Homo sapiens: one gene and its partners. The protein of the gene in region 2 purifies or fractionates together with the protein of the main gene of each other region. This does not show direct contact. Each region holds a gene or a part of one and is shown on either strand. Other genes may lie near its edges. The genes, in order: TADA2A, ZZZ3, KANSL1, KAT8, ZNF608, DR1 and KAT2B.

Region 1 (3,500 bases), on a different chromosome or scaffold from region 2:
TGTTGAAGAGTAAAGGAAGGAACCTCAGGAAGAGAAAGTATGTGTTGCTTTCCTATCAACCCATGATTTAGAGGCAAGTTAGTCCCCTCTGTACATTATTTTTCCAGTGTCGAAATGTGTCACGAGGATATGGGATGTTTAGCGGTCCATGACTGAGCAGCTTTAAAAGGCCACTTTGGATGTATCAACAGTGGGAAGATTGATTATTATTCCTTTCTGAATAGTAGGGAAGTTTAGTTTCGTTAGTTATTACTCCCTTCTGATTTTATGAATTTTTGTTAGTTGTAGATGCCCTAGTCATTTAAGTGAATCAGACTTTAGCTAGATGGTCATACGTAAGATTCAAGTTTCACAGACTTCCTGATAGCATTCTCTGTTTTTAGCTTTCAAACACCTACCTGCCTTAGTCCAAAACCGGCGGAATTGAATAGCACTTATTGCTGTTGACCTAGGGGGCAGCACCACTTAATACTACCACTTTCGTTTTTATCTTTTGGGAACACTTTCATATGGATGCTTTTATTTTATGAACTAGATAGCAGAGGCATTATTGAATATATTTTGTTCACAAATTATCTGAAGCCTAGGGGGTTGAAATGATTTCTTGTGATTACATAGCTTATTACTGAAGGACTCTTAATTAGGTCCTCCCTGTCCTGACTTACTAGTGTATATAACCTTTCTTGGTGTTCATCAGAATAAACTCTGCTGCCTGCCTCCCTTATGTCCAGGGACCTGAAGAAGGAGACCTGAATTTAGTTCACATTTTGCTTGTATTCATTCATTCAGTATTTATTAAGCATCATAAAATACTGTGTACAATGAGAAATACCAAAGGAGGTAGAAAAGTAATCACTTGTGAGGAGTTTGCTAGTCATCTTTGGCCTAGTTTTTCATTTTTTGCTTACCATTCTCTCTAAAATAGTCTAAACCTCTCTGTCCTCCTTCCCTCTTAACAAAGAACATAAAAAAGACATAGCTTCTCTATCCGCTGTGGGTAAGGCACTAAGTTTGGCAGTGAGTGGGCTAGAGCTAAGAATTATGAGATGCATCCTGTCTTCAGAAAGCTTATAGTTTAGCAGGGGACTTAAAAATACAAGTGATTGAAGTACACAAAACAGCACAGTGATGCCTTAGGGGAGGTCAAGTGAAATGCTGTGAAAAAGAGACCTTGAGGAAAGGACTTCCACCTGTACCTCTCCATTACCTTGGCTCAAGTCAGGGATTTTTTTTTATTGAGACAGTCTCACTTTATCACCCAGGCTGAAATGCAGTGGTGTGATCACAGTCACTATAACCCCGAACTCCTGGGCTCAAGGGATCTTCCCTCCTCAGACTCCCAAGTAGTTGGAACAACAGGTGTGCGCCACCATACTCAGCTAATTTTTAAATTTTATTATTATTATTATTATTTGGAAACAGGATCTTGCTCTGTCGCCCAGGGTGGAGTACAGGGGCATGAGCTTGACTCATTTCAGCTTCAACCTTCCAGGCTCAAGTGATCCTCCCAGCTCAGGCTCCCGAGTAGCTGGGACTACCGGCGTGTGCAACCACCCCTGGCTAATCTTTGTATTTTTTGTTGAGATAGGATTTTACTGTGTTGCCCAGGCTGGTCTCGAACTCCTGAGTTCAAGCCATCCTCCCACCTTGGCCTCCCAAAGTGCTGGAATAACAGATGTGCCCCACCATGCCTGGCCAGATTCTTAAGCAAGTTTCTTAATTATTTTGGGCCTCATTTTTCCTTCTTTGAAATTGAGATAGTAACAATATCCATACCACAAATTTGATACTAGGTTTAACTTAAATTCTGTTGTGAATGTTTCTAGCTCAGTGTCTGGCATCTCATAGCAGCTCTAGTAAAGAAATGTTTATGTTAAGTGTTTGGTAAACCGTAAAATATTAGGCAAAATAAAACTATATTTCTGTATATTTTGAATGTTCTGAAGTCACTTCTTATTATTTACAGCAATTATTTCTGTAGGGCCTAGCTCACAGGAAAATTTACAAATTTTCCAGTCATCTTTATTTATTTATTTATTTATTTATTTATTTATTTATTATTTTTTTTTTTTTTTGAGATGGAGTTTCGCTCTTGTTGCCCAGACTGGAGTGCAATGGCGTGATCTCTGCTCACTGCAACCTTTGCCTCCTGGGTTCAAGCAATTCTCCTGCCTCAGCCTCCCAAGTAGCTGGGATTACAGGCATGCATGCACCACCACGCCTGGCTAATTTTGTATTTTTAGTAGAGACAGGGTTTCTCCATGTTGATCAGGCTGGTCTCTAACTCCCAACCTCAGGTGATCCACCTACCTCCCAAAGTGCTGGGATTACAGGTGTGAGCCACTGCGCCTGGCCTCAGTCATCTTTCTTTAAGTGGAAAAGAAAGGACTTTTTAGTCATTATTTCTGTGTTTTAGACTAGCAAGATATGGAACACCAGATTACACCAATCTAGGCTTATATTTATGTCATTTTTCTGCTGATATCTTTTTGATATCAATTTGGAAATATGAGAGTATATTATATGGATGTGACTTAAAATATGAAAAGAGCAAATGATGCTTTTAGTATTATGTGTAAATACAAGTACCACTTCTCTCTTTTTCCCACAATCCTCTAGGCAGGATGTAGCCAATCAAATGTGCACCAAGACCAAGGAGGAGTGTGAGAAGCACTATATGAAGCATTTCATCAATAACCCTCTGTTTGCATCTACCCTGCTGAACCTGAAACAAGCAGAGGAAGCAAAAACTGCTGACACAGCCATTCCATTTCACTGTAAGTGCCTCCCTATCTTGATAAGATATACTTAGCTCATCCTTGGGCCCTGTTTCAGTAGCAGATAAAGAGTGATTTGATGACTTGGACAGCTAATGATATCACGGAAGATAGGAGGAGTTAGTATGGCAGCTATTGAGAGTCAGGATCGACCCAGCATGGTGGCTTGTGCCTGTAATCCCAGCACCTTGGGAGGCTGAGGCGGGTAAATCACTTGAGGCCAGGAGTTCAAGACCAGCCTGGCCAACATGGCGAAACCCTGTCTCAACTAAAAGTATAAAGATTAGCTGGACGTGGTGGCAGACACCTGTAATCCCAGCTACTGGGGAGGCCAAGGCAGGAGAATCACTTGAACCGGGTAGGCGGAGATTGCAGTGAGCCAAGATCACATCACTGCACTCCAACCTGGGTGACAGAGTGAGACTTCATCTCTTAAAAAAAAAAAAAAAAAGAGTCAGGATTATAATGTGGCAAAGAAGGAACATACTCTAAGGGTCAGAGTTCTATACAGGACATCAAGGTGCTTGAAGCCAATGTGTAGTTCCACCTACCTTGAGTCCTTTGAACATATCAGTTAACTTAGTGCTTTCCTTTGTAAAATAAGATGTCAAAAAGGGAAAACCTTTTCTATGCTATTATGAGTGCAAGTTTTTTTTCAATCCCTTTGGAGAGCTTATGATTATACATATGAGTTGCTTAGAGAATACAGTATTTGACTCATTA
Region 2 (3,500 bases):
TGTTATATTGAGGGCTCTGAGCCAGACTCTACTGTTCTATAACCTTTTATTTGGTAAGGAAACTGGGCCCTCAGGTATGTTGAGTGAATTATCTAGTTGCTTAGCTGCTAAGTCTGGGAACCACTGATTCTCTCCCATTCTGATGCCACACTTTTTCCACTTTTCTCTGTTGCTTTCTACAGTGGAGAAGCTACTGTTTCTTTCCCAAACAGGACACTACATTAAAATGTAGCCAGTTTCGGCCGGGCACGGTGGCTCACGCCTGTAATCCCAGCACTTTGGGAGGCCGAGGCGGGTGGATCACGAGGTCAGGAGTTCAAGACCAGCCTGGCCAATATGGTGAAACCCCGTCTCTACTAAGAATACAAAAATTAGCCGGGTGTGGTGGCACGCACCTGCAGTCCCAGCTGTTCGTTCTTGTAATCGCAAAAAATAAAGACACCTAATTGGCTGTTTTAAATTTTCTTAATAAGTTATCCTGTTACTTTTCCCTCCCCACCACTGACATCTTTCTCATAAAGAGAAGCTAAGAGTATATCTAGTGCTGTTATCCTTCCATACTGAAGCTATTTCATGTAATTTTACATTAAGAATATTGTCTATACAGTTTCATGTTTTACACATTAAAAAAAAATTTTTTTTAACCGAGCTTTGGAAGCTTGTTTTAATTTGCCAATTGTTTTAAATATTTTGGGTTTCCCACCAAATATAGCACAACCTGTGTAGATTTGTAGAGTTCATCCTATAACTGTGGAATATTGGAACCTTACATTAACCTGTGTTTAATGTAAGAGCTCTTATTTTCATGGTTAATTTCTAAGCTAATTTTATAGATGTAACCATGTTTTCATCATTAACACTGGATAATGATAACAAAAGGAATACTGGAGAACGTACATGTGTTTTTTTCCCTTAGGTGTACTGTATTTTGGCTGTGAAGATCTAGTACAGCTATATTTACAATGATTGCTTGCCATTGTTAGAGTTTAAATTTGGAAACAGGTGAAATGATGGTTCTTCATGTAGCTGAGGGTGTTCTTTGTGACTGTGCTATTGATCAAGACAGGCAGGCTGCATAGTGGTGGAAAGTGAGAATTTGGGCACCACATAGGCCTAGTTTATAATCCTGGTTCTACCACTATCTAGCTGCAACACACTGAACAAGAAACTTAACCTCCCTGTCCTCAGTTTTCTCATTTTTAAATTAGAGGTGATGATAACTACGTTATAGGAATGTTGTAAGGATTAAATGACATTGGCATAGAGCAAGCTTGTCCAACCCATGACCCACGTACCACATGTGGCCCACGACAGCTTTGAATGTGGCCCAACACAAATTGGTAAACTTTCTTAAAACATTACAAGAAATTTTTTTTTTGTTGTTTTTTTGTTTTTTTTTTTAGTGTGAGTGTATTTTATGTGTGGCCCAAGACAATTCTTCCAATGTAGCCCGGGGAAGCCAAAGATTGGACAACCCTGGCATAGAATAAGCAGTCAATCAATGTTAGATAAGTATTTTCAGATATTCATAATGTTATAGAAATTTTCCTTTTACTTTTTACTGGATAGTTTTATGTCTGGCATAGGCCACTTCATCCTGTCTGATCTTCTATAAGATGATCATAAGAATTCAGTGCAGCCAGCATTTGACTGCCAAGAGTATGATAAATGCTGGGGATACAAATATAAGCTAGATATTAAACATGTGGTCCATTTTACCGTTGTTGGGGTATTTCCCCTACATTTAAAAAAAATTTTTTAAAGCTAGTTATGCTTTAAAAACGCAGAAAACAGAAAAAGCAACAACATAAGAGTATGCTAAAGGATAGAGTGAAATTCTTCTGATAGACTTGTTGGAAGTAACATTTGTATTTTTATATTTTTGATTCTTGTAATGATTTTTCACTGAACCAATTAAAAATTTGTTTTCTTACTTAGTCTTCAACAAGCAGACGACAGCACCCTCTTAATAAGCATCTCTTTAAGCCTTCCACTTTCATGACTTCACATGAACCGCCAGTGTATATGGATGAAGATGATGACCGATCTTGTTTTCATAGCCACATGAACACTGCTGTTGAAGATGCATCAGTAAGTTATACACATCAAGTTGTTATATACATCAAGGTATAGAAGAGAGTAGGATTTTCTAATTATTTCCACTCTTCAGAGAATGTTGGTTTCTTTTAATGAACAAGTCAAATGTATAGTTTTTAAGTAATGTACTTTTGTGAGGAAAATTTCAAACATATACAAAAATAGAATAGTATAATGAACCTTAACAATTATCAACATGAAGCTACCTTATTTTAATCTCTACTCCCTACCCACCTCAACTCTGCTCTGGATTATTTTGGAGCAAGTCCCAGATATTACACAATATAATTATCATGTTTATAAAAGGTAATTTGTTATACAGTGAAATATATAGTCACTGTTCATGATTTTTTTTCTAATTTCTTCATTTGGGTTTGGATCCAAATAAAGCCCATAAATCACAATAGGTTCATTCTCCCTCTTTCACTTTCCTTTTTTCCCTCTCCCAATGTTTTTGTTGAAGAACTGGTTCATTTGTCTTATAGAATTTTGCAGTATGGATTTTATTGATTACATCTTCTTGTCATTTAATCTGTTCCTCTGTTTTCTGAACTTCCTGTAAATTCATAGTAGGTCAAGAGCATTGATGAGATTCAGATGTATTTGTTTGTTAGGGTGGGCAGGACTACTTCACGTTTACTTTCATCAGCCTGGTTGTCTCTTTTTTTGGCATAACAGCCACTGATCATTGACTAAATTGATTAATTCATTAGATGTTACAGAATAGTGATTATGCTATCATTTCTTCATTTACTTGCTGGACTATTCTAAAAGTAATCCCCCTGCCCCCTAGTCAACTATTTGGTTACTCTGAGGTACATATAGAAAAGGTGGGATAATTGCTCAATTCTCCCTTTTTTTTCTTTTTCTTTCTTTTTTAGGCAGAGTCTCGCTCTGTCGCCCAGGCAGGAGTGCAGTGGTGCAATCTCGGCTCACTGCAGCCTCTGCCTCCCAGGTTCAAGTGATTCTCCTGCCTCAGGCACCTGAGTAGCTGAGACTACAGGCATGTGCCACCATGCCCGGCTAGTTTTTGTATTTTCAGTAGAGGCGGGGGTTCACTATGTTGGCCAGGATATTCTCGATGTCCTGACCTCGTGATCTGCCTGCCTCGGCCTCCCAAAGTGCTGAGATTATAGGCGTGAGCCACCATGCCTGGCCTGTTTTCTGGTTTTTAAAATAATGAGTTCATTTTCTCATATCCTTCAAAGATGACCAATGAGGTTTAAAAATTTTTTGTATTCTTATGAACTATTGGCCCTAAATGTATTTAATGTATTTCAATTCATTGATGTTACTGCCTTTGTTAGTGTTCAAAGTGGCCCATCTTTGGTTTGTTGTAGCCTATTTAAGTTGGCTTATAAGTTCTTTTGATAAGACTCTAATAGTGTTTAATAGCTTAATAC
Region 3 (3,500 bases), on a different chromosome or scaffold from region 2:
GGCCAGGTGTTTGGACTAACCTGTAGCATTTTATGTTTCTTGCAGATGTTCCCACAAGCCTGCATTTCCAGAGCATGCTGAAATCTCAGTGGCAGAACAAGCCTTTTGACAAAATCAAACCTCCCAAAAAGTTATCGCTTAAGCACAGAGCACCCATGCCGGGCAGTCTGCCAGATTCAGCTCGTAAGGACAGGCACAAATTGGTCAGCTCCTTCCTAACAACAGCCAGTAAGTGTCAGGGAGCCGGGAAGTCCCCCAGAGTATCAGTGACTTTTCATTCCTTTTATATTCTCAAATTTGTAGTTTGCATGCATGTTGGGGTTGGGAGAGGCAGTTGACCGATAAAAAATTCAGCTCACAGTGACTGCTTCTGCTTGTCTTGGATGCTCTCAGATGGACTTCGGGAGCTATTCTAGACACCATGGATCTTGGAGCAAGACCCAAAATGCTCAGTGAACAGCCAGCAATGGCATGGCATTGAGTTCATCTACGGGCAGGTGTCTTCTGTATCCTGGTGACATGTTTCTCTGGTTCTGGGCTCCCTGTGCCTATCCTAGCCATTGTGCAAATTACTAGAAACTTCAGTCCTGAAGGACTGTCCTGCTGCCCTGGGTATACGGCGTTGGCCTAGAGAGAACTCGAGAGCTTGGAACTCGAATAAGAAAATATTTGAGAGGACATATTTCACAGCTCTTTTTCTGTTCCCCTCTTCAGAGCTGTCCCATCACCAAACCCGGCCTGACAGGACCCACAGGCAGCACTTAGACGATGTGGGGGCCGTGCCCATGGTGGAGCGAGTGACAGCGCCAAAAGCAGAGCGCTTGCTCAACCCACCACCACCCGTGCATGACCCAAACCACAGCAAAATGAGATTGCGAGACCATTCATCTGAGAGAAGTGAAGGTAGGGCCAGGCCCATGGCACCTCTACCTGCAACTGCACCTGCTCAGGGCTTTCTGGGGCAGCCTAGGCTTCTCTTAATTACCCCCAGCTTTGTCCTTCACTTTCTAGGAAAGCAGAGTAGAGGGACGCTACTGCTTCTAAATGGAGGTCACTTCTTAACTGCTACAGCAACCTCTGCCCTGCCCCTACTTCCCACAGCTAGTGTGCTTCACCTTTTTATCCTCTAGGCATAGAAAACATTTTTGCCTTTAGTATGTATTGCTGCCATTCCAAGCTTGTGTTAGAAGTAACGCTGGTTAAGATAGCCATGTATTTCTCTCTTTTCTGTTGACTTCTGCAGTGTTGAAGCATCACACAGACATGAGCAGTTCGAGCTACTTGGCAGCCACCCACCATCCTCCACACAGTCCCTTGGTGCGACAGCTCTCCACCTCCTCAGATTCCCCTGCACCCGCCAGCTCTAGCTCACAGGTTACAGCCAGCACATCGGTAAGTACCTGTGTGGGGTTGGCCGGACACCCCCTCTGCAGGTCACAGCTCACTCAAGTGGCTCCAGAGGACAGTGTGAGGGTGGGTTATAAAGCCCAGGGCATTTATAGGATCTCAGCTCATCATGACATATGTATGTATGTCTGTACCATTTTTAAGTCAAAGTCATGGTACTTGACCTTCTGTTGTTTTTCTTGAGTTGTTTTTCATAGCAGAGATGGATTTATGCTGAGCCATCCATAGAAAGCTTGATGCAGGGACAAACTCTTAAGGTGATCTGTGACTATTCAAGATCTGTTGGACTAAGTTTCACACAGGACTCAACAGTTCCGTGGCCCTAATCCTGTTGGCCCAAGAAGTGAACAAGAGAGGAGGGGTGGGTAGAGGGGAGATTCCCATGGGCGTTGGAAGCAGTGTTTGATTTCCTTGGTTTTACTCTCTGGGTGAGTGGAGGTGAAGTACTAAGAATAAACACTAGGCGTGAGGGTACCAGAAGAGAAGGGAAGGGAGAAGGCAGAGTCCATGCTTTTTAGGTATACAGAGCAGAATTACAGATCCAGCAGGCCCCCATGGCAGGACATTTGGCATGCACACACCAGATTTTACGATACCACACTCCATCTGGAAGCAGTTTGCACAGCTATTCCAGACACATTTCCTTTAATTTCATTCTAATATTTTAATTCCTCAAGTGTGCCCTCTTGGAACATACATACCTGTAGCTGCTATGGACCTACTCAAAGGGTCCTTTTTGTATAATAATTACAATGTAATGTAATGGTAAATGTAAAAGTCTGCAACTGTAATGTTTATTGAACACTTACTACATACCAGTGATCAGTGATTTACATGTGTTACATGTTATAATGCCTTTTGAGATGTAGGTTGGTACTGTGGATTTCATTTTATATGCATGAAAACTGTCAAGGCAACTTGTGAGGGTTATAATTATGATTCAAACTCAGGCAGCCTGACTGTAGAGCCAGCTCTTTTACCATTACACTACACAGGCTAAGCCTGGGTGAGGGTATTGCAGAGGCAACTTAGGAAGTTCCTTCAGAGCCTAGATCAGGAAACTTCCAAGCTCATAAAATGGACTCACTAGGCTCCTGTGATCAGGTAGGAATTCACATTGTTCTCTCTTTGCTGTTACAAATCAATCTTTTCCAAATGGTCTCTTTGCTCTTCGACTTTCTTTACCCCCGTAACCCACAAATTTTATCTAAATAGGTGTGTAGTGTCCCTCACATACTCAGTTATCCAGCAGCAAAGGGTTTCAGATAACCAAAGTATTTATAAAAAAGAGTCTAAACTAATTCTGATAGAAAATCTGAACTCAGAGATTCAGGACTTGGTGAGCACTTCAATATTTCTGTGTCTGGAGAATGTTAACTTAGGCCTGGATCACTTGAAATTTTTACCATTTATTGAGTAAAAATTTTGTGTATAGCACTATGCTAACCCCTGAGGCTCTCTCATTGCCAAGTTTTTTCAAAGACTCTGGATTTATGTAAAAGAAGATAGGCCAGGCACAGTGGCGCTCACCTATAATCCCAGCACTTGGGGAGGCGGCTGAGGCGGGTGGATCACTTGAGGTCAGGAGTTCGAGACCATCCTGGCCAATAAGGTGAAACCCTATCCCTACTAAAAATACAAAAATTAACTGGGCGTGGTGGCATGTGCCTATAGTTCCAGCTACTCTGAGGCAGGAGAATCACTTGAACTGGGAAGCGGAGGTTCCAGTGAGCGGAGATCAAGCCATTGCACTCAAGCCTGGGCGTCGCAGCAAGACTTCGTCTCAAAAAAAAAAAAAGAAAGAAGATAGGCCAGATAACAGCAGGCTCTCAGTATCTGCAGTATCTGCAGTGGGGATTGGTTCCAGGACCTCCCATAGATAGCAAAAGCTATTGTTGCTCATGTCCCTAATATAAAATGGCATAGTATTTGCATATAACCTATGTGTATGCTTTAAATCCCATATACTTTAAATCATCTCCAGATTACTGATAATACCTAATGCAATGTAAATGCTATAAAAATAGTATGCTGTATTGTTTAGAGAATAATGAAAAGAAAAATCTGTACCTTTTCAGTACAGACACAATTTT
Region 4 (4,196 bases), on a different chromosome or scaffold from region 2:
GACCTTAAGTGTGGATGAAATTGGGGGCTGTCAGGAAGGGGCGCTCTCATCACTGACACAGTGGGCTGCTTCCCGAAGTGTGGAATCTGAAGCGAATAGGTGTGGTTTAGGGAAGCCATTGTCATGGACGGGTCCCTCCAGAGCCAGGCCCACAGAGACTCAAAACCCCACCGTGCTGTGTGATGTTTGGATCTCTGTGCCTGGGCCTTGGTCTGTAAAAGCAGGATCACTTTCCTAAGGCTGCTGGGAGGATTACTCGATGTAGGTGAAGTGTTGAGGGGGGAAACAGAGAGGCAGAGACTTGCTCCAAAGCATGCAGTGGTGGGTTGGGTGCCTCCTAGCAGAGAACATATGGGCAGCGAACCTGTTCTCTTGTCCCCGACCAGGGTCAGTGCCAGTGGCGGCAGCCCCCCGGGAAAGAGATCTACCGCAAGAGCAACATCTCCGTGTACGAAGTTGATGGCAAAGACCATAAGGTGAGTGGGTGGCCAGGGGTTGGGAGAGGCCGGGGAGGCCCTGGGCACCTCCCAGATGATCCTCATCACCACCAAAGGGGAGGGGGCAGCCTTAGCTGAGCCTCTATGGGCAGAATGCCTCTGAGGGGCCGGGCACTGCAGCTCACACCTGTAATCCTAGCACTTTTGGAGGCTGAGGTGGGCAGATTGCCTGAGCTCAGGAGTTTGAGAGCAGCCTGGGTAACATGACGAAACTCCTCGACTAAAAATACAAAAAATTAGCTGGCGTGGTGGTGCGCACCTGTAATCCCAGCTACTCGGGAGGCTGAGGCACAAGAATTGCTTGAACCTGGGAGGCAGAGGTTGCAGTGAGCTGAGATTGTGCCACTGTACTCCAGCCTGGTCGTCAGATTGAGAATCTGTCTCAAAAAAAAAAAAGAAGGCCTCTGAGGGCCTCCTAGCCTGGCACTAGGCCTGTAGTTGGTGCATAGGAAACACAGGGCCTTGTGGTGGCCCCAAGACTCTTCTGCTGGTGGGGTTAGGTTCAAACTTGGGTTGTTCTGGAACCCAGAGGAGATTTTCTTGCCTGAGGCTGCTTTTAGAAGTGCTCTCTCCTTCCGTTGGAAAGAAAGGTGTTTGTTTTTGCCTGGGAGGGGACTGCTTTGTGTGAAATTTCCTCCTGAGAGAGCTCTGTGGCTTTCAAGGTTTGAGTTCCTTGTTCCTGGCCCCGAATGACTTCAGCAGGGCAGGTTGGGGCCTTTGGGACCTGCCTAGCTGTTGTAGAGAACTTGGCCTTTGCCTTATCAGTCTGGGAGGGTCTGGCCAAGTGTACTGGTTTCCCGCAGATGGGCCATACAGCACAGGACAGAGAGGGCAGGCTTCAGGGTGGCTCATGTTGCCTTGTCACTTCCTCACTGACCACAGACAAGTTACTTAACATGGTTTGTTCCTGTTTCCTTGTCCATAAGACGGGAGTCATAATATTTAATATTTACCTAGTTGTGTTGTTAGTGGAATAAATGAGACAGCAAATGTCAAGTGTTTAGTGCAGTGCTTAGCACTAGTATGTGCTTAATAAACACGGGCCTTGTTATTATCGGTGACCTCTTGGGGCTTGATTAGCCTTGGACTCGGAGAATACGCAGGCTGAGCCCAGCCCTTGCCCCTGCTCTGCCTTCCTGAGCATGGCTGTGTGGAATAGCAGAAGGGCCCCCGCTGGAGATGTGGGGGTGCTTTCCAACTGCGCTCTGCCAGCTTTGAGGCTCTGGGCAAGCACTTCCACTCTGGGAGCTTCAGCTTCCTCCTGAGTAAGATGGGCCTGGCAGTGCTGGGCTCGCACAGCTGCCGGGTTGGATGAGAGAGTGGCTGTGGTGTCATAAACCAGGGAGCCCCTTAGTGTGTGCCGTGAAGCCAAACTCGGTCCCATTGTCCCCCTCCTGGAGTGCAGCCAAGTGGACAGACAGGGCTCGAGGTTCCTCCATTCAGCAGACGTTTACCAGGCACCCAGCTTCATACTTAGACTCGTGCTAGGCGCTGGGGACACAGCCATGAACAGGACGGTCTAAATTCCTGCCTCGGAGCCTCAGTTTCACGAGCTGAAACAGAGTTAATGTCTGTGAAGACTGAAGCAGATCCTGCATGGAAGGCACCCAGCTCGTATTTGGCACTCAGAAGGGGTGGCCGGGCTTCATCCAGCTCCACTGGCACCTCCGAAGTGCTGTTGCTCTCTCATTTCCAGTTCCCTGTTCGTCAGAGGCTGACCGAAGACTCCTTCCAGTGTGAAATCCTTCTGGCCTGGCGAGGCGCCCACTTCGCGTGGGCTGGTGCCGGCCGCTGGAACCAGCTGGGTGGGGCCTGTGCCTGCCCCCTGAGCCTGTCTCCCCCCTCCTCAACCCTAGATTTACTGTCAGAACCTGTGTCTGCTGGCCAAGCTTTTCCTGGACCATAAGACACTGTACTTTGACGTGGAGCCGTTCGTCTTTTACATCCTGACTGAGGTGGACCGGCAGGGGGCCCACATTGTTGGCTACTTCTCCAAGGTGCTGGGTCTGGAAACTCGGGGTGGGGAGGGTGGGGAGGGCGAAGGTGGGCATGAACAGAGAGTGGGGCAGAGCCTCCCCAGCGGCCCTGAGCACCTGCCTCCTGCAGGAGAAGGAGTCCCCGGATGGAAACAATGTGGCCTGCATCCTGACCTTGCCCCCCTACCAACGCCGCGGCTACGGGAAGTTCCTCATCGCTTTCAGTGAGTGGTTCCTGGCCTGTCTGGGAGGGGGAGACCTGTGGGGCAGGGGTGCCAGGGCAGGCTGGATCCTAAGTTCCTCTTTCTACTGCTGCCAGGTTATGAGCTCTCCAAGCTGGAGAGCACAGTCGGCTCCCCGGAGAAGCCACTGTCTGACCTGGGCAAGCTCAGCTACCGCAGCTACTGGTCCTGGGTGCTGCTAGAGATCCTGCGGGACTTCCGGGGCACACTGTCCATCAAGGACCTCAGGTGAGGGGGCCTCCCGGGCCCTGGGGGCAGGACTTGCCCTGAGATGGGCCACGATCCTGCTTCCTCATACCCTGTCACCATCCTGGCCAGATCCCACAAGGGCACCAGGTCTGGCATTTGCTCTCATCCCTTTTTGCAGCCAGATGACCAGTATCACCCAAAATGACATCATCAGTACCCTGCAATCCCTCAATATGGTCAAGTACTGGAAGGGCCAGCACGTGATCTGTGTCACACCCAAGCTGGTGGAGGAGCACCTCAAAAGTGCCCAGTATAAGAAACCACCCATCACAGGTGGGTGGGGGGCTGCTGTGTGTCGGGGGCGGTGGGGGAGTGTCAGTATATGGACTGGTAGGAGTCAAGGCCTCCTTATTGCTGTCACATGATCCCAAACCAGTCAGACCAGCTCCCAGGATGGAGCCCGGGGCAGGCCTCTCATTCCTGGGCTTCCCTACCCCTCCCCAGCACAGCCTGCCCTTTTGTTCTCACCTGGAGGAGGTGAAACTGGCCTGAGCCCAGAGGAGGGCAGCCAGGTGTGAGCTGGCCTGGCCCAGGCCCAGCCCTGCCTCCCGCCCCTTCTCCCCACAGTGGACTCCGTCTGCCTCAAGTGGGCACCCCCCAAGCACAAGCAAGTCAAGCTCTCCAAGAAGTGAGCAGCCTGGCCCCTGCTGTCGGACCTGAGCCTCCTGGCTCCCAGCCTGTAAATATGTATAGACCTGTTTTGTCATTTTTTTAATAAAGTCAGTTCTGGTGGCCCTGGACTTTGGAGGGGAAGGGGAGGCCAAGAGCGGATGTTCTTCATTTCACTTCACACATGCACGGCAAGTTGTGCTCAAACATTTTAATCATTTCTGCCCTGTTACTCCCACCCCAGATCCAAGCGCCAGCCCAGTTCCGGTGGGGGCTCAGTCCTCCGGAGTCCAGGAGTCAGGGCTCGGGGGCGCTCAGCGGCCAGTGGGCAAGATTGGGGCCTTTCCTGTCCTCGAAGCTGCACAAAGGTGGCCCCAGCCCAGAACACAGGGAGAGGGCAGAGAGATGTGCTCATCAGTCTGGGCAGGCGGGCCGGGAGCAGTCTTCCAGAAACAGGTGGGAGCCAGGGCTCATTTTCATAGCCAAGGGTCCCAGGAGCTCCCCAGGAGCTCGGCCAATGGGCTGGTCCATGGTGGGTGAGGGGCCAGAGGCTCTGGCCATTGCTACAGGCAGTAAAACTCCTGACTCTCAGTGATGGTCCCAAAAAGCACACCCAGAAGAAT
Region 5 (3,500 bases), on a different chromosome or scaffold from region 2:
AGGATGTCTGAACCATGACAGAAGGTGCTAGTACATTTGTGGTTTCGTGGTGACCAATTTTCAGGTGTTCTCAAGCTGACTGACCCATGGGGCTCTGGGACAGCTGTTGAGGCCTGCCACCCAAACCTCCTCACCCTCCTCACAAACATTCAGCACTGAGCTCTGAGTTTTGGGGTACTTAATATAGGGAGTAAGACTGAAATCTAGGCATCTCTGACCCCATGTGAAAGAAATTTGGGCCCCAAATTCTATTAAAAAGATTAATGGGAAATGTGAATTCAGGGACCCAGTTTTTATTATCTTCAAAGAAGATGCTAGTAGAAATTTGAAAATGGAAAATAAATATTTCAGAGATAAGACTCAGAATCTCAGAGTTAGAAGAGAATTCAGCAGCCCCATTGTGGAAAGCCCTCGCCTTGGACTAAGAAATTAAGGGATCCTGGCCAGGCGCGGTGGCTCACGCCTGTAATCCCAGCACTTTGGGAGGCCAGGGTGGGCGGATCATGAGGTCAGGAGATCGAGACCATCTCGCTAACACGGTGAAACCCCATCTCTACTAAAAATACAAAAAATTAGCCGGGCATGGTGGCACGTGCCTGTAGTCCCAGCTACTCAGGAGGCTGACGCAGGAGAATCGCTTGAACGGAGGCGGAGGTTGCAGAGAGCCAAGATTGCACCACTGCACTCCAGCCTGGGTGACAGAGAGAGATTCCGTCTCAAAAAATTTAAAAAATTTAAAAAAAGAAATTAATGGACCTCATCAGAGTCACAGAGCAAGTTAGTGGCATGAAACACAAATCTGCAAAGCACCCATCCACAGTTCCTTTTACTATACACCATGACAAGAAAATACTGATAATGTACATTTTAGAGCTACATAGTAACTCCTGAGAATCTTAAGATATTTTTCAAGAGCAGAGGAAAAAACTAATATGGGTTTCTTTCCTGTGTCAGAAGTCTAACCAGATCAAGCCCAGACATGTATAATACAAGTCTCAGACTGCTCTCTCCCTGTTGGGGCCACGCTCCACAATCTTACTTGTTTAAATCTCGAGGTTGGGTCTACACCTGTCTGCTTCATAGAGTCCATGACAGACTTCATTTCTACAGCCTCCTTAATAAGCTGGTGGTTTTCCATCTGCTTAGCTTTGAAGCTGTCGGCCTGAAGCTGCTGCTGGTGATTGGAGAGAAGCTGCGATTTACCTGTCTCCTCAGTTTTATTAGGCACTGATGGCCCTAGTTTAGAATGGTTTTTGTTAGGCTCCGGAGTAGAGGGAGCTTTTGAGATTGTGGCCGATGGCATATTTTTCTGTTTAGTTTCCTCCTTGCCCAGCTCTTTCAAGGGGAGCTCACTTTTCCTTTCACAGTCTCCTCTCCCAGTCTGGGCCATTTTCTGCTCTGCCAGCCTCTGGTCCTCATAGTACTTCTCATACTGCTGTCTATAGGCAGGGCTGGTGGCCATCAGAGACTTCTGGTCCATATAGAGCCCATATGCATACTGGCCATAATAAAGTGACTGAGCCAGGGCAGGATGTCTTTGTGTGATCACCGACTGGTGCTGAGGCTGTAAGGATGCAGAATTGTGGTCCACTTTCTTAGAATCTAACTGCTCTGCCTTGTCTTTCTTTTCAGCATCTTCCTCAGACTCCTTCTTGATCTTCATTCCCTGCGTGCTCCCACTATTTCCAGCTGCAGGGGCACCGACCTGCCCAGGGTGCATGTAACTTGGAGAATAATAAGGATCATAGCTGTGGTAATAGGGAGAATGGGACTCTTTCAGTTGAGATGATTGTGCTGTAGTTGAAGAATGCCCTTTTACAACACTGTCCTTACTAGAAATAATATCTGATGGGGAACTGGCCTTTGATCTCATACCCTCCGACCTGCTGTCAGAACCACCATCGTCAGCAGCATCAGATATGTCTGAATAGGCCGGGCTGCTTGTCTTTGCAGCTGAACTCTCTGCCCCATTCTGGGTCAACACATGCAGAGGTGCCATTGGTGCCTGCCCGTTCACCAAAGTGCTGCATTCCAGCCTCGAGGCGCTCCCTATGGAAGGGCTGGGAGCGTTGTCTGTGAAAGTGTAAACCTTATCGGCCTCAGCTTTGATACTGGCCATGCGGCTCTCCTGAGACTCCGACAGTCCATTTGCCAGCCCTTCATTCTTGTTGAGATGATCCTTTAAAAAATGCCCAGGTAAATCTTTGCTGGCCCCCTTGGAGTCCTCTAGTTTCCCCAGCTTGGCATCCATTTTTGGGCTTCCCGTCTCTTTCCCTTCTTTGTCCTTTAGCTTTCGCTTCTCCTTTTTCTTTTTGTCTTTGAGTGACACCAGAGCTGGGTTCACGGTGATGGGCTCTCCCATAATTGTGGGCTTTGGTTGAATGGGTTTTAACGGAGGACTCTTTGGTGTAGCCTGAACAACAGTTGTTGTGAGGGAGGGCAGTCCGGGTATTGTCCCAGTGGTGGTCGTTGTAAAGGTTGCAGTGGGTATAGCGATTAGCTGCGGGGGAGTGGGGGCTGGGGCAGGGGCAATGGGCCGGGCACTTTTCAGTTTAGAGAGGTTTTTGTCCGTTTTGCAGTTGGTAGCTTTTTTGCCCTTTTCTTTATCTCCTAAATTTTTCTTGTCAATTAATCCTTCTGCTTCCAGTTTAGGCATCTCAGCAGCCAAACTGCCGTCTGCTGCCGAGCAACTGTCTAACGCAGCCGTCATGTTGGAGATTACTGGAAGGTTGTTCAGTTCATTGTTAAGGCCCTTCTTTTTGCCAGAATTCTTCCCAGCTTTAGCACCAATAATGGAACCTGGGCCATTGCTCATCAGCTCTCTCTTTCCCTTTGGGGTCCCAGGTGGGTTTCCAGCACCAGGGGATGCCGGTGCCTTCAACTGGTCATAAGCAGATACACTTGTGCTTGGCTCACTGCATTCAAGTGCCACATTACTCAATCCTTCCTCACAGTCCGAGATCTTGTCCTCACTGTCAGGCTCGAACTCCAGCTTGTTTTCTGGGTCTAAGTGTGCATGAGCCTGGTGGTACCTCAGGCCGTTAATGTGCTTGTACTTTTTGTTGCAGTTTGGGTGGGGACAGTCGATTAACACTGGAGAAGAGCAGCCTTGGTCCAAAAAAGTAGTCTCTGGTTTCCCTTGAGGGGTAGTGGGAGTGCTTCTGGAATTTGTGCGGACACGCTTTCCAGGCTTATTGTCCTCAGAGCTGGAGTTCAGGTCCAGCTCCATTGGAGGCTTGTTTTTCCTTTTGTTGGTGGAGGAAGGGCTGGCTTTGATATCCTCAGCAGCACAATTTGGGGGTGTCCTTCGTCCGCTGGCATTGAGGCTGCCCCGCCTCCCTTTCCCATTGGCCCCCCCTCTGTTCTTATTCTGCAGCCCTCTGGACTCTGTGAAGCTGGCCTCGGAGCCCGGGGCAGCAGCAGCAGACCTCGCTCTCTTCCCTCTGCCCCGGCCCCCTCTCATCTCCAGGTCACTTGTCGGTGACTCACAAAACCTATGG
Region 6 (3,500 bases), about 16 Mb from region 2:
ACAATGACAGCCTCATTTGAAGCTAGCAGCAAATATTTGGAAGGAGGGAACCTTTAATACATCAAGATTAAAGTTAACTTTAAATTATAAATGAGTCATTTTAATATGTGGGAGTGAGAATCTTAAAACATAATGAAAACCTCCAAAAGAAAAGTGAATTAGGAAATACATGCCTGCTTACCTGTCTTTCACACCCCAATTTTAGAAGAAAAATACTTGGGATGGATTGAGTAGGGGGCAAGAGAGAAAAAAATATATTACAGTAAATATCACTGAAAAATGTTCAATTTGTGGAAATGAATACAAATAAAATTTTATCAATCAACTTTTTTTTTTTTTTAAAGAGACAGGATCTCACCATGTTGCCCAGGCTGGAGCACAGTGGCTATTGACAGGCTCGATCAGGCACACTTCAGCCTAGAACTCCTGGGCTCAAGGGATCCTCCTGCTTCAGCCTCATGAGTAGCTGGGACTATAGATGTGCACTAGTGAGCCCAGCTCAACAGTTAGTTTTAAAGGCATAGAAATGTTTTTATGTTCAGAGAAAAGTATCAGCGCTGATACAGGGCCGTGGTAGCTAAAAGTCAATTAAATTTGAAATGTAACTAGTACACAGCTTTGCAGACCATTGAATAGACTACCAAATCAAGCACCTTTGCAGTAAAACCTTTGTAGAGACTTGAAATTATTTGAATTTTTTCCATGTCACAAAATTATACCAACTTGTAGTTGATTAGACCACAAAATATAGGTATGCTTATGTTGGTTGAATTTATGTATTTGATTTGCCCTGCAATTTTCTTATGAACTCTTACAATTTTTTTTTTTTTTTTGAGATGGAGTCTTGCTCTGTTGCCCAGGCTGGAGTGCAGTGGTGCTATCTCGGCTCATTGCAACCTCCGCCTCCCGGGTTCAAGCGATTCTCCTGCCTCAGCTTCCCAAGTAGCTGGGATTACAGGCATGCACCACCATGCCTGGCTAATTTTTGTATTTTTAGTAGAAACAGGGTTGCATCCTGCTGGCCAGGCTAGTCTCAAACTCCCAACCTCAGGCGATCCGCCCACCTTGGCCTCCCACAGTGCTGGGATTACAGGCATGAGCCACCGCGCCCGGCCTTAAAATGTTTTTAGCGAAGCTCTGTTAGTTGGTTTTGAACTCTGGATATTCCTGCCGTAAAAGTAAATATGCTATTGTGTTAGAATCAACTATTTTTCCTATTTCTTTACAAAAATGGATGACAGTCATTATTAGGGAGAATGGATGGTTTCTAATTTCCTAAGCAAAATGAAGTTTTTGTTTACTGTAAAAGTTGTCTTATCCTTGTTTTTTCTAATATCTATAGTCTTTTCCTTACTTATTTCTTCCTCTTTGCCTTTAACCATATACGGGTCTTCTGCATTTCCTTGTATCCCCCAAACCCTTTCATCTTTTGCTATAATGATCTGTGTTACCCACCAAGCAAGGTGGCACCTTCCTGTAGTCCCAGTTACTCGGGAGATGGAGGCAGGACAATCCCTTGAGGCTAGGAGTTCAAGGTTGCAGTGCATAACAACTATGCCTGTAAATAGCCACTGCACTTTAGTCTGGACAACATAGCAAGACCCCATCTCTAAAATAAATAAATAAATAAATAAATAATGATCAGTGCTACCATTTTTTGAAAATGTACAATCACTTATTCCTCAAATTTAACTTCTGTCCTACCACAGAGGCATTTAATCACCAAATTCAGTAATTTTTTTTCCTTTCAATTCTTACTCATCTGTTTTTTTAAAAATAACATTTAATGTAGACCTCTTCCTTTATTAGTCTCTGATACTATGGTTACTTGGATAGCTTTCCCCCAAGGTAATAGCTTTTCTTCTTCCACTTCACTACTGCCACCTACACCAGCACCACCCTACTCCTGCCCTTCAGTCAACAAATTTCAAGTCAGAATTCAATTAACATGTCCCTACTGTATGTAAGACATATGTGGTACTATAGATATAAAAAAAAATGAAGAATATATCATTATGAGACTGACTACTTGGATGAGGAAGATAACTATAATATGAGGCTGACCACTTATGAGAAAGAGATTCTGGCTGGGCATAGTGGCTCACACCTGTAATCATAGCACTTTAGGAGGCCCAGGTGGGAGAATCACTTGAGCCCAGGAGTTTGAGACCAACCTGGGCAATATAGTGAGACCCTCTCTCTACAAAAATAGAAAGAAAGAGGGAAGAAGGAAAGAGAAAGAAATCCCAAGTATGGAAACATTACATCAAATTTTAGGGGTACAGGAGTATGCCAACTAGTAAGCAATTATCTTAGCTCCAGACCCACCTTTCTATGCTCTGCTTTGTGACTGGACCTAGTACTCTGCAAGCCACATGTTTCTTTGCTAGCTGACTCTCCATTAGACTCTGTTGCCATATGGGGCTATCGTGGGAGATTGCATGGATGGAGGAAGAGAAAGGGTTTTCTCTTACTTTCTCTTGTCTTTCAGTTCCTTTGAACAACCCAGCAACACTTCTTCACCCTGGTTGCATCAGTTTTCCTGTAGCAGAGACTGAACGCGGTTTGCATTTTCTCTAATACACCACCAGCCTGAACCCGCACCCCATCCCCCCACTCTGGCAGTGTGGATCCCAACCCTTGGGGCCCTCCTCCAAGCGCAGATATATTAGTACTAGCTTATCTATGCCCATTCTTCCGAGGCCTGAGTTTCAGTTCCATGAAGTGGTTTCTTAAGCTTCTAAATTTTAAAAATTCCAGCATTTTCCTTTATTCCCTCAGTTTTAGGGTTGGTGGCTGCTTCCTGTAGCTGCTACTTTCATGACATCTTCATGTTCTCTTCCTGCCTTTTCAGCTCCCTAATAACAACTTTATACTTGTTTAACAATTCTTCGTATTAAATTTTTTCCATTCCAGTAACTCATGTGACATCTATCTCTTGATTATACACTGACTGATGCCAGGAGGAGAAAATAGTATTTCAGTTTGACTTGAAGGAAGGGTAGAATTTCAGTAAGTGGCAGGAAATTTCACATAGGATGAGTGTCAGCATGAGTAAAGGTAGCAAAGATGAGGAAGTATGGTGTATATTTGGGAAACATTTTGTGTTCTAGGCTTTTTTGAAGCACAAAGTACATGTTACAAAAAAAGACTATAGAGAGGTTGGGGTAGACACTAATTTGGAAGACCTTGAACTCTAGGCTAGGAAATTTGGATTTGATTGATAACAAATGATTTTTTTTAAAAAAATGAAATAGTGACCTGATTAGAATTTATATCTAGAAATGTTTGGATAATAAAGTCATGACAGATTATTCAGAAGAGTGAGGATTGTACATGGTAAAATCTTAAATGTTACTGGTTATGCTGGGCATCACTGTTTTCCTGTAGCATGTTCATTCAGAAAATACTGAGGGCCTTTATGTTAGGAATGCAACAAAGAATATGGAAACAATCTCTATTCTCAAGTGTGGTGGAAAAAAAGGATATAAACTTAGATA
Region 7 (3,500 bases), on a different chromosome or scaffold from region 2:
TCAAACTCCTGACCTCAGGTAATCTACCTGTCTCGGCCTCCCAAAGTGCTGGGATTATAGGTGTGAGCCACCATACCCTGCTGACTTCTGCCTCATTCTGTCGTCCAAAGCAAGTCACGTAGTTGAACTCAGAGTTGAGAGGTGGAGAAGTGGAAAAAGGTAGTCTATTCCTTTCGTAGGAATAACTGCAAAGTCACATAGCAAAGAGTGTAGATACCAGGAGGGTAAAGAATTTGGCCATTAATGTAATCTACCACATGGGCAAAAATATCTCTTGAGCCTAGAAGCATTTCACAGTTAGAGAATGTTTTGAAGGTTGCATTTCTGTCCACAGACTTGACGTCAGACAAATCTTGGATGTGACCAAATTTTTAAATAAAAGAAGTACCATGAAAGAGGGAAAGAAGAGGACCTTATAATATAAGAAGTGCCATATATTTAGCATATGCCACCATTCCCTTTCACTTCCAAGGGAGATATCACTAATTCATGCAGAAACTCTTTACCAGTGAGCTTGGATTCAGCCTCAGACTTTTTAAAAAAAATCATAAACACCATTAGCAGTCTAACAAGCAGAGGGCATATCAAGTACAAACCCCAGCTACGAAATAAATAGTTTTCAGCATTACTCTTAGGGAATCATGGAATTTGAGGACTTATTGGTCAGATGTCTGAAAATATTGTTACTTGTCTCCAAAAACAAACAACAAAAAATTGTAAAAAAAAGAACTCGACAAAAGTGATTTAGTAAATAATATGTAATACTTCTGGAAGAATCGTCTACAGTCAAGTTACTTTATACTGTTCTGCTCCTTTTCAACTAGAGATAGTGAGAATGCTATGTGGAGAATGTTATATTGAGATAGCAGTGGGATTCACATGTGAGGAAATAAATTAGATCTAGACATCTTAAAAATTCAAAAAATTTACTTGTAAAAATAAATACATGTTATGTCTGGAAAAAACTGGAAAAACCAAACATGAGAATAGAAAGGAGAAAAAAACTACCATGCAATCTCATGAGGAAAGCGGAAGAAAGTTCTCTCTGCCTTTGCATGGCTCTCCTATTGTGTGGAATGGTGAGATTGCATCTACTTGATAGGCTAGTGGTCCTGCTCACTTTGTGAGGCATCATTTTAGGGCAAAAAAGCATTGTAAAAGATAAAGTGTGTCATTTTATAATAGAAAATTAAATCCATAAATTTGTTTATTAAAAATAATTTATGGTATATTTCAAATATATAGCTATATATACATAATATATATGCATACATACACATATGCATATGTGTGTGTGTGTGTGTGTGTGTGTGTGTGTGTGTGTGTGTGTGTGTGTGTATAGCCAAGCCCAGCACAGAGATTCCAATCAGTGGGTAGACTCATGAACAAGCCTGCCAAGATTGAATGAGATGAGCTGAAATCAGCCACCCATCAGGAAACATACGAAATGAATGAGCTATGATAGTAAGTTATTATGGTTTAAGACTCATTTGGGGTTGGTTTATTACATAGCAATAACTAACCAATAAAGCCCAAAGCCTAATGCAAACTGATTTCCGTACATATATGGTGGGGTGCCGGTGGGGGCGGGGTGGAATTAACATGACTACAAGGAGAAATAATCAAATCAACCAACGGTTGAGGCTTTAAACAAACAACTGAGTAATTCATAGGTCAAACAGACAAAAATATCAGTAAGGCTCTTACTGATATCCATACAACATGATCTGTAAGCTGAAGCTAATGGAGTTATAGAGATCAAAATATGAAAATACACATTCTTTCCAAGAAGACACTGCACATTTACAAAAGATTGGTCTTATTTTAGGTCATAAGGTAAAAATTTCAATCCATTTTGACGTTTTGGTGTCATATGGACCATGTTCTCTGACCTTGAAGAGACTATATTAGAGAGTACTAACAAACAATAGCTAGAATCACCCCTTTGCATTTGCAGATGAAGGAACATGTGCCTTAATATTTCATGTATCTAGTTAAAAATCATCATAGAAAGTAGAAAATATTCACAATGAATTGGGTTGGCAGTTATTGTGAGCTCACAATGGCTCTCTTTCCTGTCTTCCTTTGTCACCCCTTCCCCTGGTGGTAAAGATAGAGTTGACCTCCATGCCCATCAATGCTGTTAGAAAATTAGTTGGCGTGTATTATTTGTTTTGTGTTTAGAACCACCCATTGTTTGCCTTTTATTTTGATCATCATAGGAGAAAAGAGGAAAATGACTGATTCTCATGTTCTGGAGGAGGCCAAGAAACCCCGAGTTATGGGGGATATTCCGATGGAATTAATCAACGAGGTTATGTCTACCATCACGGACCCTGCAGCAATGCTTGGACCAGAGGTCAGCAGGGTAAACCTGGGCAGCCAGCTGGTAGACCTCTTCTGCTCTCCTGGCCACTCCAGCTGTCAGAAGTGGGGATGCTAATGCTGAGAGTTAACATGTTATGCTACCCTGGTTTGCATTTAACCTGGTGGTCAGTGTGGAGAGGGCAGGAACAACTGATCAAGAGGTAATTCCCCTTGATGAATATCACATCACAGGTCCACTTACTAATAATCTCACAGTTGAAGGCATCATTCCCAGCTTTTTATCTTGAAAAATTTCAAGCCCTCATAAATGTTGCAGAAATTCTGTAATAAAAATCCATAGACTCTTTACTGAGATTCAGCAGTTAACATTATGCCACATTTGCTACCTCTCTTTCTCTCTGCGCCTCCCCATATGCTCTTTTTCTTTCTCTCCCCACTCCCCATGAACCATTTGGAACCATTTCAGAATTAAAAACACATGTCATAATACTTCACCCCTAACTATTTTTGCATGTACTGTATCTCATAAGGAAGCTATTCTCTTACATAACCACAATGCAGTCATTACTCTTAGAAAATTTAGCCTGGTTACAATATTTTCTAATACAGGGTTGGTGAATTACAGCCTGCAAGCCAAATCTGCTCCACTGGCTGTTTTTTTCAAATAAAGTTTTATTGAAACATATTGTTTGCAGCTGTCTTTGCATTACAACAGTAAATTTGAATAATTGAGACAGGGAATGTGTGGCTTGCAAAGTATGAAATATTTATTATCTGGCTTTTCACTGAAAAGTTTGCTGACCTCTGGCCTAATATAAAACCGTATTTAAATTTCCCATATAGCCAGATGATGTCAGTTATAACCTTTGTTGTTGTTGAAGGATCAGTTAGGGATTGTGCATTGCATTTAATTCTTATCTCTTCATTTGTTTAGTCTCCTTTAAAACAACTCCCCAGCCTTGTTTTGGTCTTTTGCAGCACTGCCATTGGTGAAGAGTCTTGGTCGCTAGTTTTGTATAAGGTCCCTCTTTTTGGATTTGTTGATTGTTTACTAAGGATTAGATTCAAGTAAGGCATTTTTGGTAAAAATGCTGCTGTCATCTCATTGCCTTGCATCTGAGGGCATGCAAGGCAATGACATTTCTTAAGACATACCTGTCTTAAGACATTTC

Evidence for each region.
Region 1: the proteins of ZZZ3 (region 2) and TADA2A purify together in Homo sapiens (affinity purification with mass spectrometry; 4 studies listed by BioGRID and IntAct, with this or other methods). This does not show direct contact.
Region 3: the proteins of ZZZ3 (region 2) and KANSL1 purify together in Homo sapiens (affinity purification with mass spectrometry, with the first as the bait; one large-scale study listed by BioGRID). This does not show direct contact.
Region 4: the proteins of ZZZ3 (region 2) and KAT8 purify together in Homo sapiens (affinity purification with mass spectrometry, with the first as the bait; one large-scale study listed by BioGRID). This does not show direct contact.
Region 5: the proteins of ZZZ3 (region 2) and ZNF608 purify together in Homo sapiens (affinity purification with mass spectrometry, with the first as the bait; one large-scale study listed by BioGRID). This does not show direct contact.
Region 6: the proteins of ZZZ3 (region 2) and DR1 purify together in Homo sapiens (affinity purification with mass spectrometry; 2 studies listed by BioGRID and IntAct, with this or other methods). This does not show direct contact.
Region 7: the proteins of ZZZ3 (region 2) and KAT2B purify together in Homo sapiens (affinity purification with mass spectrometry; 2 studies listed by BioGRID). This does not show direct contact.

What each region holds. Positions count from the first base shown.
Region 1 is NC_000017.11:37,437,886-37,441,385, forward strand, and holds part of TADA2A (transcriptional adapter 2-alpha), read left to right. Parts: exon of another isoform or gene 1-73; intron 74-2,619; coding exon 2,620-2,777; intron 2,778-3,500. UniProt on the Homo sapiens protein: Component of the ATAC complex, a complex with histone acetyltransferase activity on histones H3 and H4. Required for the function of some acidic activation domains, which activate transcription from a distant site. Binds double-stranded DNA.
Region 2 is NC_000001.11:77,574,659-77,578,158, reverse strand, and holds part of ZZZ3 (ZZ-type zinc finger-containing protein 3), read left to right. Parts: intron 1-1,938; coding exon 1,939-2,091; intron 2,092-3,500.
Region 3 is NC_000017.11:46,036,430-46,039,929, reverse strand, and holds part of KANSL1 (KAT8 regulatory NSL complex subunit 1), read left to right. Parts: intron 1-45; coding exon 46-228; intron 229-714; coding exon 715-903; intron 904-1,243; coding exon 1,244-1,392; intron 1,393-3,500. UniProt on the Homo sapiens protein: Non-catalytic component of the NSL histone acetyltransferase complex, a multiprotein complex that mediates histone H4 acetylation at 'Lys-5'- and 'Lys-8' (H4K5ac and H4K8ac) at transcription start sites and promotes transcription initiation.
Region 4 is NC_000016.10:31,127,664-31,131,859, forward strand, and holds the end of KAT8 (histone acetyltransferase KAT8), read left to right. Parts: intron 1-386; coding exon 387-476; intron 477-2,353; coding exon 2,354-2,494; intron 2,495-2,603; coding exon 2,604-2,697; intron 2,698-2,792; coding exon 2,793-2,943; intron 2,944-3,082; coding exon 3,083-3,237; coding exon of another isoform or gene 3,238-3,329; exon of another isoform or gene 3,330-3,531; coding exon 3,532-3,596; 3' UTR 3,597-3,696; downstream 3,697-4,196.
Region 5 is NC_000005.10:124,645,640-124,649,139, forward strand, and holds part of ZNF608 (zinc finger protein 608), read right to left. Parts: intron 3,495-3,500; coding exon 1,040-3,494; intron 1-1,039. UniProt on the Homo sapiens protein: Transcription factor, which represses ZNF609 transcription.
Region 6 is NC_000001.11:93,355,907-93,359,406, forward strand, and holds part of DR1 (protein Dr1), read left to right. Parts: intron 1-3,500. UniProt on the Homo sapiens protein: The association of the DR1/DRAP1 heterodimer with TBP results in a functional repression of both activated and basal transcription of class II genes.
Region 7 is NC_000003.12:20,120,446-20,123,945, forward strand, and holds part of KAT2B (histone acetyltransferase KAT2B), read left to right. Parts: intron 1-2,222; coding exon 2,223-2,359; intron 2,360-3,500. UniProt on the Homo sapiens protein: Functions as a histone acetyltransferase (HAT) to promote transcriptional activation. Has significant histone acetyltransferase activity with core histones (H3 and H4), and also with nucleosome core particles.